Regions from separate parts of the Homo sapiens genome. Here region 1 is linked to region 2. A link means that fine-mapping ties the variant in region 2 to the expression of a gene that starts in the linked region. Tissue or cell type: testis. Region 2 holds a variant in brackets; the other region holds the start of a gene. All regions are shown on one strand. Distances are between the middles of the regions.

The links. PIP is the estimated chance that this variant, and not a neighbour inherited with it, causes the effect.
Region 1: RCVRN starts here. The variant in region 2 is fine-mapped to the expression of RCVRN in testis (GTEx, PIP 0.95).

Annotation. Positions count from the first base shown.
Region 1 is chr17:9,900,691-9,908,869 of GRCh38, forward strand. RCVRN (recoverin) reads right to left here and starts at 4,581. Exons shown (of 3, transcript NM_002903.3): 1 at 4,110-4,581; 2 at 299-410. The coding sequence starts at 4,490.
Region 2 is chr17:9,957,258-9,965,436 of GRCh38, forward strand. GAS7 (growth arrest specific 7) reads right to left here. Exons shown (of 14, transcript NM_201433.2): 5 at 1,945-1,998. Among named protein-coding and RNA genes, the nearest start is that of RCVRN, 56 kb to the left of the region's middle. RefSeq lists a silencer at 1,563-1,756. The variant C/G (reference allele first, on the strand shown) is at 3,856.

The DNA.
Region 1 (8,179 bases), 57 kb before region 2:
CCCAAAGTAAAACCATAGAAATACAGATCCCACTGACTTGGGACTCGATATTAATTCAAAGCTAGGGTGAGCTGAAGTTTGCTCTTGTTCTAATTGCACAGAAAACAGTTTTGGCTCCTGCTCACCCTTAAGGCCATTCCCCTGTCCAACCCTTCAAACAGCTCTGAAAATGCACAATGGAATGAGGTGTCCCCCATCCTGCCTGGACACTGTGACTCAGAAGAATAAATCTTGTTGGGATTTCCAGGAAACAGCCCATGGTTGAAAAATCAAAGGCAATGAAGGAAAAGGAATTCACCATCATCATTCTTTCCAAAGTACTTCCAGATCTTCTCGGCTCGCTTTTCCGGCGTGTTTTCATCGTCTGGAAGGAGCTTCACGTCCTCGGGAGTGATCATTTTGAAAATAGCCTGTACCAAACAGAAAGAAAGAACTCGTTAGGAGGAACTTTAAGGGGCTGGCAACCCTGGAAAATCCACATCTTACACTGTACACAAAAATCTACTCAAAATGGATTAAAGACTTAAACATAAGACCTCAGACCGTCAAACTGCTGGAGGAAAACGTAGGGGAAAAGCTTCTTGGCACTGGTCTTGACGATAATTTTTTGGATATGACACCAAAAGCAAAGGCAACATAAACCAGAATAAACAAGCAGGATAGCATCACACTAAAGAGCTTCTCCATGTCAGAGGAAACAATGAACAAAATCAAAATGTAACTTATGGAATGGGAGAAAACATTCGCAAACCATTTGCGTTCTGCCTCCCCGGAGACACCTGTGAGCAGGTCAGGCAGGGGCAATAATGGCTGTGAAATTATCCTGGAGGGAAGGTCGACAGCTTTGAGAAGTTTCCCTTCAGCCCCCTGGTGCTGGATAAAGGAGTAAAGAGGCCAAAGCCACAGCCCAGGGCAGCAGCGTCGCTGGCAGCACTCAAAGCCCTGAGCTGGACGCCAGTGTAGGTGGCTCCTACACTCCTATCCATCTGTGCAGGGCCTTGGGCACCATGTGCAGGTGTGCCAGCTAGAAGCTGGCAGTGAGTGCCTGCCCACCCCACTTCCAACACGGAGGGACAGACCTCCAGAGCCTCAGGAAAGACTGCAAAAATAATCAAATCCTCACCCTGGGCCCAGGAAGGTTATATGGTTTTCCCACAGCAACACTGCTAGTTGGAGTCAGAGCTGGGACTAGAACCCTTCACTTTTAACTCCCTCAGTCAGTGCTCTGCCCATGAACTTGTAATCTGGTGAATAGCAGAGCCTTCTGCCACCTTGCACAGCCCCAGCCATTGATGGAGTCTCCCTCCCTCCCTTTCCTTTCTTCTTTCTTCCTTTCTCTCCTCCTTTCCTTCTCCTCCCTCCCTTCCTTCTCTCCTTCCCCTTGCTTCCCCCTCTTTCCTTCCTGACTCCTACCTTCCCTCTCTCCCTCCCTCATTTCCCCCTCCTCCCTTTCCTCCTCCTTTTATTCAATGAGTATCAATTTGTAGGCTTCTGCTGGGCCCTGCATTGTTTATGCCACTCTGAAGACTTAGTCCCTGTCCCAGGCCACCCAGAGACCCCACAGCCAATCCGAGGGAGCTTTCTCTGCAGGCTGTGCCAAGATAACAATGAGAGAGACACATGCCTGCCAGAATGGGAGGCCCGAGCTGAGCATTGAGGATAAGCCCATGGACCACAAGCTGCATGCTCTGCTGTTTTATTTATGATTTCTCCTAATAACTGTGGAAGATTTTTGTGCATTTGTCATCATGCAAATGAAAGCATGATTGCCAATGCACACAAAGTTATTAACATCTAAACAATAGTCTCTACTAACAGGAATGGAATTAGAAGAATAAGGTAAGTGGCAGGGGCAGGGGGACTGAAAAAGAATAAATTAAAAAAAAATCAAATGAAGGAAATTAGAACTGGTATAATAGGAAAGAAATGGAAACAACCTAATGTCCAAAAACATAGGAATGTTCAATAATTTCCACATTTCCATAAGCCAGAATTCCAAGCAGCTATTAAAAGAGTTTTGGAAGAGGTTGGGTGCGGAAGCTCACGCCTGTAATCCCAGCACTTTGGGAGGCCGAGGCGGGCAGATCACCTGAGGTCAGGAGTTCGAGACCAGCCTGGCCAACATGGTGAAACCCCGTCTCTACTAAAATACAAAAATTAGCTGGGCAGGTGCCTGTAATCCCAGCTACTCGTGAGGCTGAGGCAGGAGAATTGCTCAAACCCAGGAGGGGGAGGTTGCAGTGAGCTGAGATCACGCCACTGCACTCCAGCCTGGGCGACAAGAGCAAAACTCTGTCTGAAGAAAAAAAAAAAGTGTTTTGGAAGAATATGTAATGATATGGAAAGCACTCATGATAAAAGAGTAACTGAAAAATGTATGATAAAAAATCGTATGTGAATATGTCATAGCTTTAACATTATTTAAAATTATATAGGTAAAAGACTGAAAAGGTATATACTGATATACTAAGAAAAGTTTTCCCTGGATGTTGGAATTAGAGGCAATTGTTAGTCTCTTTTGCCTAGGTTTCTAAATTTCATGAGTTACTTTTATATCAGATAAACCATTTTCAAGACACCTACGAGGTTAGTGGAAAAGTAATTATGGTTTTTGCCATTACTTTCACAACAAAGGATCTGACAGGAGGACAGTATGGACAGGGGAGAAGGCGTGTTGGGAACCATATGGAAGCCTGTGCGCCTCACAGGGAAACTGTCAGGAGCCGGGGAGCCACGCCGCGCGTGGGAAGCGGGGGCTCATGCGTGGTGCCATGATCCGCCCCGCGCTGGGGAGAACATGAGGACTAGAACTCAGAGTTCATGCCCCCAACTTTGACCTCTTTCTACTTTATATTAGAAGCATATTGTGTGTTTAGAATGAACAGTGATTCAACTTGAATGTGTACTGCTGAAAATTTCAAAGGACATTTTAATAAAGGAAGGAAGAAACAAAGGATGGAGAGAAAGAAAAAATGTAAATATAGTCACGTGTCGCTCAGAGACAGGAATACATTCCGAGAAACACATCTTAAGGCAACTTCTATGTGGGAACATCATAGAGCATCCTTGCACGAACACAGATGGTAGAGCCGACTACATCCCTGAGCTCCATGGTCCAGCCTTTTGCTCCTAGGCTACAAACCTGTGCAGCACGTGACTGTCCTGAATGTTGCAGGCAGTTGTCACACGATGGTAAGTATTTGTGCATCTAAACATAGCTAAACATAGAAATCATGCAGTAAAAATACAGTATAAAGATAAAAAATGGGCCGGGCACAGTGGCTCATGCCTGTAAATCCCAGCACTTTGGGAGGCTGAGGCTGGCGGATCGCTGGAGGTCGGGAGTTTGAGACCAGCCTGACCAACATGGTGAAACCCCGTCTCTACTAAAAATACAAAAATTAGCTAGGCATAGTGGTGCACACCTGTAATCCCAGCTACTCGGGAGGCTGAGACAGGAGAATTGCTTGAACTCGGGAGGCAGAGGTTGCAGTGAGCCAAGATCGCACTATTGCACTCCAGCTCTGGGCTACAGAGTGAGACTCCATCTCAAAAAAATAAAAAATAAAAAACCAAGATACAAAATGGTAGACCTGTCTAGGGCACTCACCATGAGTGGAGCTTGCAGGACTGGGAGTTGCTCTGGGTGAGTCAGTGAGTGAGTAGTGAGTGAATGTGAAGAACTAGGACATTACCGTACACAACTACAGACTTTACGGATACACTTAGGCTACACTAAATGCATTTGAAAAATAAAGTAACTGTGCTATGACGTCACTAGGCAGTAGGAATTTTTCAGCTCCATTACAATCTTATGGGACCACAGTGGTCTATATCGTCCGTTGTTGACCCAAACATCGTGAAGCCAAGCATAACATGGCTGTATTAGGAAACACTCAGATTCTGCTCCGGGAAGACAACGAAGCTGTGGGCAAGTGCCCACCCCTCTATCAATATCAGCATCTCGGAGCACCACGCTCTCAGAGCCAGTGGCCCGCATCCCCCGCTCCACCCACAGATCCACTCCCTCTGCAGCAGCTGCAGCAGGGGACCCCCAGCCCGGAGCGACCCCGGCACCGCCCAGCCAGAAGGGGAGAGGGGAGACTGACCATGACGATCTCCAGCACTTCATTCTTGCTGATGGTCCCGTTACCGTCCACGTCGTAGAGGGAGAAGGCCCACTCCAGCTTCTGGTTGGTCTTGCCCGCGGTGGTCATGTGCAGGGCGATGACGTACTCCTTGAAGTCCAGGGTGCCGTCGAGGTTGGAATCGAAGCTGCGGAACACATGCTGGGCGTAGGCCTTGGGGTCGGTGTCGGGGAAGAACTTGGCGTAGATGCTCTGGAACTGCTGCTGGGTGATGCGGCCGGTGGGACAGTCCTTCAGGAAGGACTGGTACCAGGAGCACAGCTCCTCCTCCGAGAACTTGGTGTTCAGCTGCAGCTCCTCCAGGATCTCCTTGGACAGGGCCCCACTTTTGCTGTTCCCCATGAGTGAGGAAGAGTGGGCAGCGGCTGGGGAGTCGCTGGGTGGGTGGGACGTGCGTGGTCCCCTGGCCGCAGGCTGGGCTCAAGGCTGGTGTGAGCTGAAGACCGAGATGCTGGTGGCTTAGGAGGATTTGCGACCAGTTCTTCGCAATCCTTGAAGGGAGGAGGGGCCCAGGAGCTTTGTGGAGGGCGGGAGCGGTGGGGGGGGGTGCTCCCAGAACCCTAGTGAGATTAAAATAAAGAGCCCAGGGCAGGCAGGCAATTCATCTCGGCCTCCCGGGACGATACTAGAACAGGACAGGAGGTTGGAACCCTCAGAGCTGGGGCCTCCGGCACCCCCAGCCCCAGCCCTCTAACAGCAGCCATGTTCCCTGTTTCTCTTCCTCACTAACTCTGAGCATCTCGGGGCGGGGCTGGCATCTCATATCAAGCCCTAGAATGCAATGGTTAGGAGCACAGACTCTGGGGCCAGCATGGGTTCAAGTCCCAGCTTGGCTACTTAACTAGCTGTGTGGCCCCAGGCTTGTTTCTTCACCTCTTTCCACCTGGGACACTCTTCTAAACCTTCACTGCAGTCATGTCTCTGCTTAAATGTCACCTGCTCAGCCAGGCCTATACTGACCCTCTATCTATAATAGCACAACCCCCACCATCATCGGCACGCTGCATGTCCCCTCACCGGAATGAAAGCTCCGTGAAGGATGGGATTTTGTCTGTGTTGTTCCCGGATGCATTTCCATTGCCAGAACCTGATAGGCTTGGGCCCCCAGCAAGTCTTTCTTGAATAAATGGGCATCATAGCATCTACCACACTGTCATTGTGAGGCTGATGTGAGTCAATATGTCTGACACACTTAGAAACTGGCACATGGCTAATGCTAAACACTCGTTTTGTTATTGTCCATCAGTCACAGGGAGTGAAGGTGAACTGCCTGAAGGGACCAGCAGGGGGCAGCCAGGCCTGTGTCACCTCGGGAAGGGGCTGCCAGAGAACGTGGTCACATGGGATGGTGAGATTTTTGGGTTTTTTTAAATTATTCAAGAGAAATCCAAAAATCAGAATTTTTCTTGCAATTTCCACACTTTTCAACTTTGGCAATTAATTCAAAATTTTAATGGTGGCTCACGTCTGTAATCCCAGCACTTTGGGAGACTGAGTGGGGAGATTACAAGGTTAGGAGTTCGAGACCAGCCTGGCCAACATGGTGAAACCCTGTCTCTACTAAAAATACAAAAAATTAGCCGGGCATGGTGGCAGGTGACTGTAATCCCAGCTACTTGGGAGGCTGAGGCTGGAGAATCGCTTGAACCCGGGAGGCAGAGGTTGCAGTGAGCCGAGATTGCACCATTGCACTCCAGCCTGGGTGACAAGTGTGAGACTCCATCTCAAAAAAACAAAACAAAAACAAAAACAAAAACAAAACAAAACATGGTGTGGGCCAAACACAATCTATCTGTGGGTCCATGGCAGGCTGCAGGGTGTCCGTCTGCAGTGGACTTGGAGTGAGCAGGCAAGAAAACGTGTTTGCTGAGTGAATGGATAAATAACTGAGTGGTCAGAGACGGAGCTGTGCAAAGGCAGGCTTCGCGTCTGTGCAGCTCAGCGGGGAGTATCAAGCACGAGGAAGCAACCTAGTGAGGACGCTGCACACCTGGATTCTTGTCACCCAGAAGGAAGGGAGGGTGGGCGTGCACTTTCCTTAGCGGAGCGCAGTGCTCGAGGGGACACACTCAGAACCCCAGCCTTGCCACCGTGGATGGAGAGTTGTCTCTTTTTGCCCTGGGGTGAGAATGATGAAGAATAAACCCCACGGTCTCCAGGCAGGTAAACTGGTTTTTTTTTAGACGGAGTCTCCCTCTGTCACTTAGGCTGGGCACGATCTTGGCTCACTGCAACCTCCGCCTCCTGGTTTCAAGCAATTCTCCTGTCTCAGTCCCCTGAGAAGCTGGGACTACAGGTGTCTGCCACCACGCCCAGCTAATTTTTTTTTGGTATTTTTAGTAGAGTCGAGGTTTCACCATATTGGTCAGGCTGGTCTCGTAAACTCCTGACCTCAGGTGATCCGCCCGCCTTGCATCTCAAAGTGTAAAGTGGGGATTTTAGCCTACTTACTAACAGGCTAGTGGCAGCAGAAGGTAGGTCCCTGCTGCTGGGAGAAAGCCACCTGCCAGGCCCACCTCATGTCACTCTGGAAGGACCGAGAGGTTCAGGCACCAAGGGGCAGACTCATCCCTCCCAGCCGCTCTGCCCAGTACAGTTTCAGAGATTTCTCAGGAAACCTGCATATTGGGGTGTGTGTGTGAACTTTCTAATTTTTTTCCATCACTTTGTGAGTTTTTTTTTTTTTGTTTGTTTGTTTTTTTTGTTTTTTTTTTTTTAAGACAGAGCCTCATTCTGCGCCCAGGCTGGAGTGCAATGGCACGATCTCGGCTCACTGCAACCTCTGCCTCCCAGGTTCAAGCGATTTTCCTGCCTCAGCCTCCCAAGTAGCTGGGATTACAGGCGCTCACCACCATGCCCAGCTAATTTTTGTGTTTTTAGCAGAGATGGGATTTCACCTTGTTGGTCAGGCCGGTCTCGATCCCCTGACCTCATGATCTGCCTGCTTTGGCCTCCCCAAGTGCTGGGATTACAGGCATGAGCCACTGCGCCCAGTGAGAATATTACTTCTGAATAGGAGTCCTTCCTCTCCTAGGCTTTCACCATCCTGTAGCGTGCATTTATTCTCAAGAGCAGTTAGAAACAGGACAGTCACTAGCCTTGAAAACAAACGGGAGCCCAAGCCACACCCTGGAATCGCATTCATTCCAGAGCTTCCTTGCAGCCCTGGGGATGGAGGGAGAGTGAGGTCAGAGGCCTCGGCCCCTTGCTCTGAGCCACTAGTAGGGGGCGACTGGAAGTGCCTCCTGGATCGCACCCCTGTCCACATCAAGCCTGCAGCAGATGAGGCGAAGCCAGTGTTACAAGTGAGAAGTGGGGCCTCCTAAAGGCATGTCACCAGCCTGGGGTCACATGGTTGCTAAATGGCAATGCCAGAAGGAAGGAAAGTCCAGGTCTGCCAGCCTGTCCATTTAGGCTTCCTTTGTCTACGTCACAGGAGGCCTGAGCCTAGAGGACAAGTAGGTGAGGAGGTGGGGTTACCATGTCAATGAAAGAGGCCCTGGGCGAGGCAGAAGGCAGCCAGAGCCCTCCAGTCTTTGCTGTCCTCTCCAGGCACAAGGAGGAAGGAGCTGGACCCAGGTCGGAAGCAGCCTGGTACAGTCCACATTCTCCAGGTTGCTGTGCCCAGGAGGGGCCCCAGGGGACCGCAGGCAGCTGTGTTGATGCTGAGAGTGAGGGGTCATGACCTGGAGGTTTGTTTGAAAACCTGCATAAACATCTTCTATCAGAGGGAGAGCTTATGCTCCTTAGCCAAACAAGTTGTTGGAGATGATGTATTGTGAGTCGATTTGTTAAGTCTGAGCTGGGGCCATAAACTCTCCCAAAACCCAAAGACTGCTCTAGAGGAGAAGGCTTCATCTCCAGGCAGAGGATCCCAGTTTTGGTCTCGCTCTCCTCGCTGGACTGAAAGATGCTTCCCAGAAGCTGGCCCTGTCCCCTCAAGCAGGAGCTCCATCTTGGCCATTAGCTGGGACCCAGACGCCACCCCTTCCCCATTGCTCGACCTTGCCTGCTATGAGCTGAAGGCCAAG
Region 2 (8,179 bases):
AAAGGTCTTGGAGGCTTGAGAATACAATTTGCAGACTCCCTCATGAGAAGCAATGATATGGCTCAGCAGGAAGCGACAGGGAAGGCAGGGATGGGCGAGGTGTGCTGCCCATCAGGGGCCCAACAAGGGCCGCCATCAGCCCCCTCCGGCCACACCCGAAGCCCTGGCTGTAAGATGGACTCCAGCAGGTGCCCCACCCTGTGGCCTGGGCACCATCACTAAGCGCCTTTAAGGCAACCCTCCACGACATAACACTCTGCTTTTCACTTTGCATTTTTGTTTTTCTTCTAGAATTCAAATATGTCTCCCACTCCGACCTCCCCCCCTTTCTCCTCCCCCTCCTTTTTATGTATTTCAGAAGACTCTGGAGAGCTCCTGCTGTGCCCCAGCATTCTGGGGCATTTTGTGACAATTTGAAGATGGGGACTGTACCCTCTGGAACTCTGCACCTGAGCCTGCCCACACCCCCTACCCACCAGCTCCATCAACTCCACCGGTAACAGGGAGGCTGCTGCTACCCCACAGTCCAAGCAGGCTGAGTCGTTCTGCCCAGCCCTTGGAGACACCGTCCATCAGCACAGGGCACTCCAAAGGAGCTCATGACACAAGGAACCCAAGCCAGCTCCAGAAGGGGCACTGTGGTAAGGACATAGATTTCAAATCCTGATACTTCCCAGCTGGGTGACCGTGAGCAAGGTGCGGCTCTGTGCCTCAGTTTCCTCATCTGTAAACAGGGTGATGAGTGTGCACAGAGCACTTACTATATGCAGGCTCTGTTCTAAGTGCTTTCCATGGATGGACCCATTTAGTCCCTACACCATCCCTAAGGCAGAGACCACCCACTACCCCCCATTTCCCCACTTGACAGTTATTGACTGAGACGGGAAGAAGTCAAGAAACTTGCCCCAGGCTGTTGCACTGTCATTAATATAACCGACACTCTGGCCTCAGAGTCCACGTTCATCATCGTTATACTATATTGATTCCACGACTGACACTTCATATAGCTAATGGACAATTAAATGAGCCACTTGGATCACTACATGTGCATAATAAGTGCACACAAAAGTTGCAGCAATTGTTATTGTTAATTGTTTACCTACACTTTTTCTCCCAAAGCAGGATGTGCAGCCTGGACGAAGCAGGGAAATGCACCCACTCTTGGTTTTGTCTCCACAGGGGTGGTCGGAATGGCTCAGAGCTGTGTGAGTTGGAGCCTAAGAGAGCAATACCCCGTTCCCTGCTCTCCTGCCCTTGTGCCAAAATAGCAAACCTGCGACCACACTTCTCAGGCCTGTGCCCCTCAGGGGGCAATGATGTCCAGCCCCAGCTGCCCCAAACACAGGGCTGAGGAGCAGAGGTGGAGTGTGGGGCTCCCCTTCATCTCTGCATGGGGGTGGGTGGGGTGGGCTCCCCCTCATCTCCACATGGGGTTGGGCATCTCGAAGCGCCCTGGGAGGCAGGCTGGCCACTCTAGGCAGAAGCTGCCTGCTCCCCTCAGGGACTCCTAGGAACTCTATTCTTAGGACGCTTTCTCTTGCTTTTTACTTTGACATCTTCCAGAAGTTACCCCGCACAAAAGCAACCCTGCCGTGGCTGTAATTTACACGTCACATCACTTGCGCTGAGCACAGTCCACCCCCTTCAACCCACTCCCGCACGCATACCTTCCCCTCCTGCCCTGAAAAAACGGCTTCTGCATCATCCCAGCCATCCTCCTTCCACTTGTTCACCAGGAGAGAAGTGAAATGTGAAATTGACAGGAGAAGGGGAGGTGGGAGGGGCATGTGGATGGGGAACTTGAGTGAAATCCGAGCTTTGGAACTTCCCCGTTTCCAGGTTGGGCATCACTTCTGCTTGGCGGTCCACATCGCCATGGCAACAGCCCAGCCAAATGCCCCAGCTCGCAGCCCACCCTGAGGGCGCCCCTCGGGAGCCACTTACTGTGATGGTGTTTTCCTTGCTCTGCTTTTTGCTTGGCGATGAGGATCCCAGGTTCTGGGGAGAGAGGCAAGAAACATCGTCAAAGCTGTTCTCCATATTGGACATTTTTTCCCCCCATTCAGGTTCCCTGAGGGTGGAGGCGCTGGGGAATCAGGGATGCTCAGTCTGAATCCTAAGTCACCATATTCTGGGCCAGGGCAAGCAGGGGTCTCCCTGACCCCACGCTGTTCCCACGCCCAGCTCTCGGGCTGAAGGCGAATTAAGGAAGCCTCCTGCACAGGCTCTGAGAGAACTGCTCCAAACCAGGTCTCCCCTCCTCTTCTCTCAGTCTGTGATTTGGGGAGTTAACCCCTCCGCTGCCCTCTGCTGGTGAACGTTCCGCGTGCCGCTTGCTGCCTGAAGCCGCGGAATCCACTGGGGAGAAGAGAGTTAAGGCCACCACCTCCTGGCACTGAGGAATCAGCACACGACATTTTATTCTGAAACCCCCCGGGTCCAAAACGTCAAACCTAAATACACACAATGTGCACTGGGGCGCTGCTCGGTCACCTCCCTGACTCCCCGCTCCCCCAACCCCGTGAGCCAGGAGGGATTTCTCAGCCAAACCGACTTCCAGCTTCCACTCAGTCTTTATATTGCCTTTTGATGTCTTCCACCGCCAGTAAGAAAACCAGAGTCCCAAGTACCTCTGAGCCTGGGGTCCTCAGCAGTTTGCCAAAGTCCTGGGATCGTTCTGGCAGAGAAAATTAAGGACTGCCAGTGCAAAATGCTACACGTGTCCTAAGAGCCTACGACTCCAAAGAATGTTTGATTCTGGGTCTCTGTTGTTCTATTAGCAATTATGTTGGGGGCTCAATACCAGAGATCCCCAAGCAGGACCTGGGATGTCTCCTATCCTGAGCCACACAGCAACCTGGGAAGCAGGCTTACCCCTAAGGCACCGCAGGTGGCCATCACACTTGTGCCCCAGGACTTGTGCATGACCTTATTCTTTTTTTTTTTTTTTAAGATGGAGTGTCATTCTGTCACCCAGGTTGGAGTGCAGTGGCGTGATCATGGCTCACAGCAACCTCTGCCTCCCAGGTTCAAGCAATTCTCCTGCCTCAGCCTCCTGAGTAGCTGGGATTACAGGTGCCCGCCAGCACGCCCAGCTAATTTTTGTATTTTTAGTAGAGACAGGGTTTCACCATGTTGGCCAGGCTGGTCTCGAACTTTTGACCTCAGGCGATCCACCTGTCTCGGCCTCCCAAAGTGCTGGGATTATAGGCATGAGCCACTGCGGCCAGTCTGGCCTTACTCTTCCTTGGTAGAATGTAAGGAAGTGGCTGTCACTTTATAGATAAAGGCCAGAAAAAGGATGGAGGGGCTTCAACAAGAAGGAACCACCGGCTTGGAGTGGGGGGCACCCCGCCCCTCAGGCCAGCACGACCCTGGACACCTGGCCAAATGACCATCTGCAGGTGAGGGCGAGCCTTTGCCTCAGAAACCCGTCAGCAAATTAGGCAAACCAGGGAGCTTGACTATGCCCCTGCTAAGGTCGCATACCCTTACTCCCATACAGTCTTACTTGGGTTGCTAATTAAAGTCAACTCAGGAAAACTGATATCCTTAAGGTGTCTAGCAAAAATGAACCTTACAGAGCATTAATTTCACAGACAAGAAAATGATTACTAGCCTTGAGACCCTGGCCAGAGAATCTGACTTCTTTGAGCCTCAATTTCTCCATCTGTCAAATGGATGGTTATCACTGGTCCTCAAGCTTTGAGGTGCATCAGAATCAACTGAGGAAAAAGTGTCCAAAATAGAGTCCCAGCTGCACTCTCAGCTGCTGGGCCTGATCCAGCAGGTCCCAGGTGGTGCCAGCACCTCTGATTTGCAGAATCTGTGGACCTCACTCAGAGATACATGGAT[C/G]TGATCTACACTGTGGTTTCACTGAGGTACCTCTACTTATGGCAACTCCTCTAGTGACCCCAACGGGCTCCTGGCCAACGTCAACTTTATGGCCAACTACAGCTTCCATAGACATTTTTAGTGCATCATCTCATCCAGCTGGCCCACCCTATACCTTCCCACTTGACAAAACTGCACAGGGAGAAAGGCAGACGGAGGCTACATGGCAGGAGGTACCAGTCACCAAGGAGAAGAGACAGGGATAGAAGTCTCTCTCTCCATAGGTTCATTCACGTACAGACTCTAGCCAAGCAAATACATGGCAGGAAGGGGAAAGAGTAGCCTATGGGATGGATTCTGCAGTCTGCAGGAGTCTGTCTTCCTGTCATGGACACATTACCACCATCACCACCGCGTTCCCACTGCAGCCCCCCAGAGAGGGGAACCAGCACTCCAGCAGCCTTGGCAACAGCCTTCGAGTCTGCCTATGGATGCTGATGATGTTGGTGATGAGGGGGCTAAGGGGAGAAGCAGTGCAAGAGCGACTGTCTACTGAGTGCTTGCTTATTACGGCAGGCTCCAGGTTAGCCATCTGACATATTTAATCTCATTTCATCCTTACAACCCCAGCAAGTTAAATGGCATCAACTCCATTTTGCAGATCATGAAATTGGGGCTTGCAGAAGTAAAACTGTCCAGGGTCACAAGGCTATAGTAAACAGAGGAGTGGAAATTAGAATCCAAGCCTGCATAACTCTTTCCTCTATCTTCCGCCATCTCTCCACTTTGAGACCTGAGACAATATTTTGTTTTCCATGTGTCTTTGCAGGAAGGCAAAAAAGATTTCCATCAACCACAAACATATATTTTGGGACCACTGTGTATAAATCTCTGTAGAATAAGGCTTGACGCAGAGGTCGCACCTCCTCCTTATAACTTGGCTAGGATAGGAATACAAGTAATGGCATTGAGGTTGGGTGTTCCACGTGTTAGGTGTCAGCACCTTCCCTGGTCTCTGTTCTATTAGCAGTGTTTTACTTCAACCACTGAGGGCCAAGGTAGATCACAGGCAATCTCAGGCTCTGCCTGTGCTGCTGATAACCTGTGCCTACTGCTCCAACTTCATATACATATCACGTGCATTTTATACACACACACACACACACACACACACACGTGACACACACACTATCATAATTCTCCATTGAAAGGGCCCAGAAGGAATGACATCTCATCACAGTGACAACATCTACTGGCTAGAAATTGGTTTCCAAATATTACCGGAAGCTCCTTGGTACTAATTTCAAAGGCAGGTATTTGGAATATCCTATTGTACCAAGAGGTAAGAAAGTATTCAGAGAATAATGGAGAGATAACAAAAGAACATAAACAACTTAAAGGGCTACCACAGGCCAAATCTGCGACAATTTGAGCACAAATATGAATGAATGACTGCAACTAACTAACTAACTCCAAAGGGGAAGGGAGAGAACATTTATTTCAGAAGAATGCCAATAAAAAATGTACAAGAAATTGGATGACCACCATTTGCAAACCCCAGCCTCAAAGGGGACTCAGGCCATGATCCTCAAGGATGCTGAAAGCAGGGGATGGAAAGACTGCCAGGGCACAGGATACTCACAGGGTCTTACACTGGCACCTCACAGATGACTGACAAATTAGAAAGGGAAAATGTACCCCTGCAAAGGAGAAATCTGGCAGTCAGCACCTTAACCGAGAGTGCAAACTGAGCCTCATGAGTAGGGTGCCAACCTGGGTGGTTGTGCCCCCAAATGCAGTAAAAAGAACCCCACATGCCCTGTCCAGCTATTCTTGCCCAAACTCCAGAACCTGAACCTACGCATAAGAGAACAGTCAGACCAAGAACGCAGGTTATTCTATAAGACACCTGACCTGGACTCCTCAAAAATAAATCGTCAAGGTGATGAAAAAAAAAAAAAAGAAAAAAAGGTGTAAGGGATTGAGTGTAGAGGCAACGAGACAGGCAACAACTTGGATGAAACGTTCTATCCATACGACAGAATATTCTTCTGTCATAAAAAGGAATGGAGTGTTCATCCATGCCGCGATGTGAATGAACCTTGGAATTCCAGGTGAAAGAGGCCAGACACAAAAGACCACAGATAGTATGATACCATTTATATGAAATGTCCAGAAGAGGCAAACCCATAGAGACAGAAAGATTAGGGGCTGCCTAAGTCTTCAGGTGATTCTGCTTGGGTTGATGAAAATGTTCTAAAATAGATTTGATGATGGTTGTAAAACTTTGTAAATATAGTAAAAAACACTGAATTGTATACACTTTAAATGGGTGAATTGTATGGGTATGTGAATTACAGCTCAATAAAGCAGTTTTTTGGTGGGGGAAGAGAGAGAGAGAGAGAAACAACAGAGACACAGCAACCAGTGTATCTGTGTGTGAACCTGAAGGGATCCTGGACTGGGGAGAAAAGCAGCCATAAAAGGGATTTGGGGGCCAGGTATGGTGGCGCACACCTGTAACCCTAGGCTTTGAGAGGTTGAGGTGGAAGGATCGCTTGAGCCCAGGAGTTCTAGAATTCACGAGCTATAATGGTGTCACTGTACTGTAGCCTGAGGTACAGAACAAGACCCCATCTCTCTCTTTTTTCTTTCTTAAAAAAAGGCATTTTTTGAGACAATTGAGGAATCTGGAGTGTATATATTAGGCGGCATTATTGAATTAATGTTTTCTTAAATATGATAATGGTATTATCATTATGTCTTCTTCCTGGAAGATACATTCTGAAATATTTGCATTTAAAACAGTAAGTCAGAAATGTGGTTTAAAATAATCTAGGGGGTGGAGGGCAAGGGGATTGGGGGAGGGGATGGGAGCACAAATAAAACAAGATTGGACAAAGGCAGGTAATCGTTGGGCTTAACAGATTTGTGGTACCTTATTATATATTCCCTCTACTTTTGCAAAGGTTTGCAAATGCCTATAATAAGAGTATTTGTTTTAAATTTCCTTTGCCTGTGATTCCAGAGAACTCTTCCCTTCCATTTATTTTGTAAAGGCCTGCCCAGGGGTCAGGACACCCCACCTGGGCATCTCTGCATCACCCTGAGGCCTGGCAGGGGGTGATACCACACAGGAAGTGCTTGGTAAACTGGAGTGGGTCATTCACAAGTGATTCAGCAGGCCCCCGACTCCAAATGTCTTCTCAGCCCATTTCCTCCCCCCCTGCAAATAATCTGGGTCCCATCCCTTCAGCAGGTGGGATCCTGTACAAAACCCCTCAATGGCTTCCCAGTGCAGTTAGGATAACCCCTGAGCTCCTCGTGGCAGGCCTGCGCAGACTACCCCAGCCTCATTTCCCACCCTCCCTATTCCTGCTGATTTAGTAAGCCACAGCCACACTGGGTCTCTATGCGTAAACACGGTTCCCCCTTGCTGCCTCCAGGCATCCACGATGCTATTCCCTCCCCTGGAAAGCTATTCTTTCCCCACCTCTTTGCCAAGTGAAACCCTTGCTCATCATTCCAGTCTTAGAATAGGTATCTTTTCTTAAGGTACCTTAATTCCTGACATTTCCAGCACCAGGCTAGGTTCTCACAGCATCCACTTCCTCCAGCCTTTGTCACTGCTGAAATTGCACCATTATTTATCTACTGTTTCTCCCACACCAGCCATAAAACTCCATCAACGCAGGGCTATAGATATCACCTGTGTCTCAGTGCCTGACAAAGACCGAAATTGCTCAATAAGAACATGTGTTATTGAATTATTGAGGTAGGTAGGAGGTGGTGGAGATTAAACATCTCACCTCTTTCTCCACTTTGAACTCCATGCTCCAATGGGTCCCTCAAGTTTCCAAGCCCTTCGTCCCATTCTCTTTCCTCTCTCCTGTGTCTAGAGGGTCTTCCTGGGAAGTTCGTGAGAAGCCAGAACAATTGAAAGGTGGATCACAAAAAGGCCCAGGCACTGGTGGGCAGGAAGGGAAGGGACCCACTAGGACGCGATTCTGCAAAGGCAGCAAGACTATTAGCCTTTGATCTAGAACCGGAAATACCATTTGACCCAGCAATCCTATTACTGAGTATACCCAAAGGAATATAAGTCATTCTACTATAAAGACACATGCACACGTGTTTATTGCTACACTATTTACAACAGCAAAGACTTGGAACCAACCCAAATGCCCATCAATGATAGACTAAAGAAAATGTGGCATATATACATAATGGAATAGTATGCAGCCATAAAAAAGAATGAGTTCATGTCCTTTGTAGGGACATGGATGAAGCTGGAGGCCATCATTCTCAGCAAACACAGGAACAGAAAACTAAACACCGCATGTTC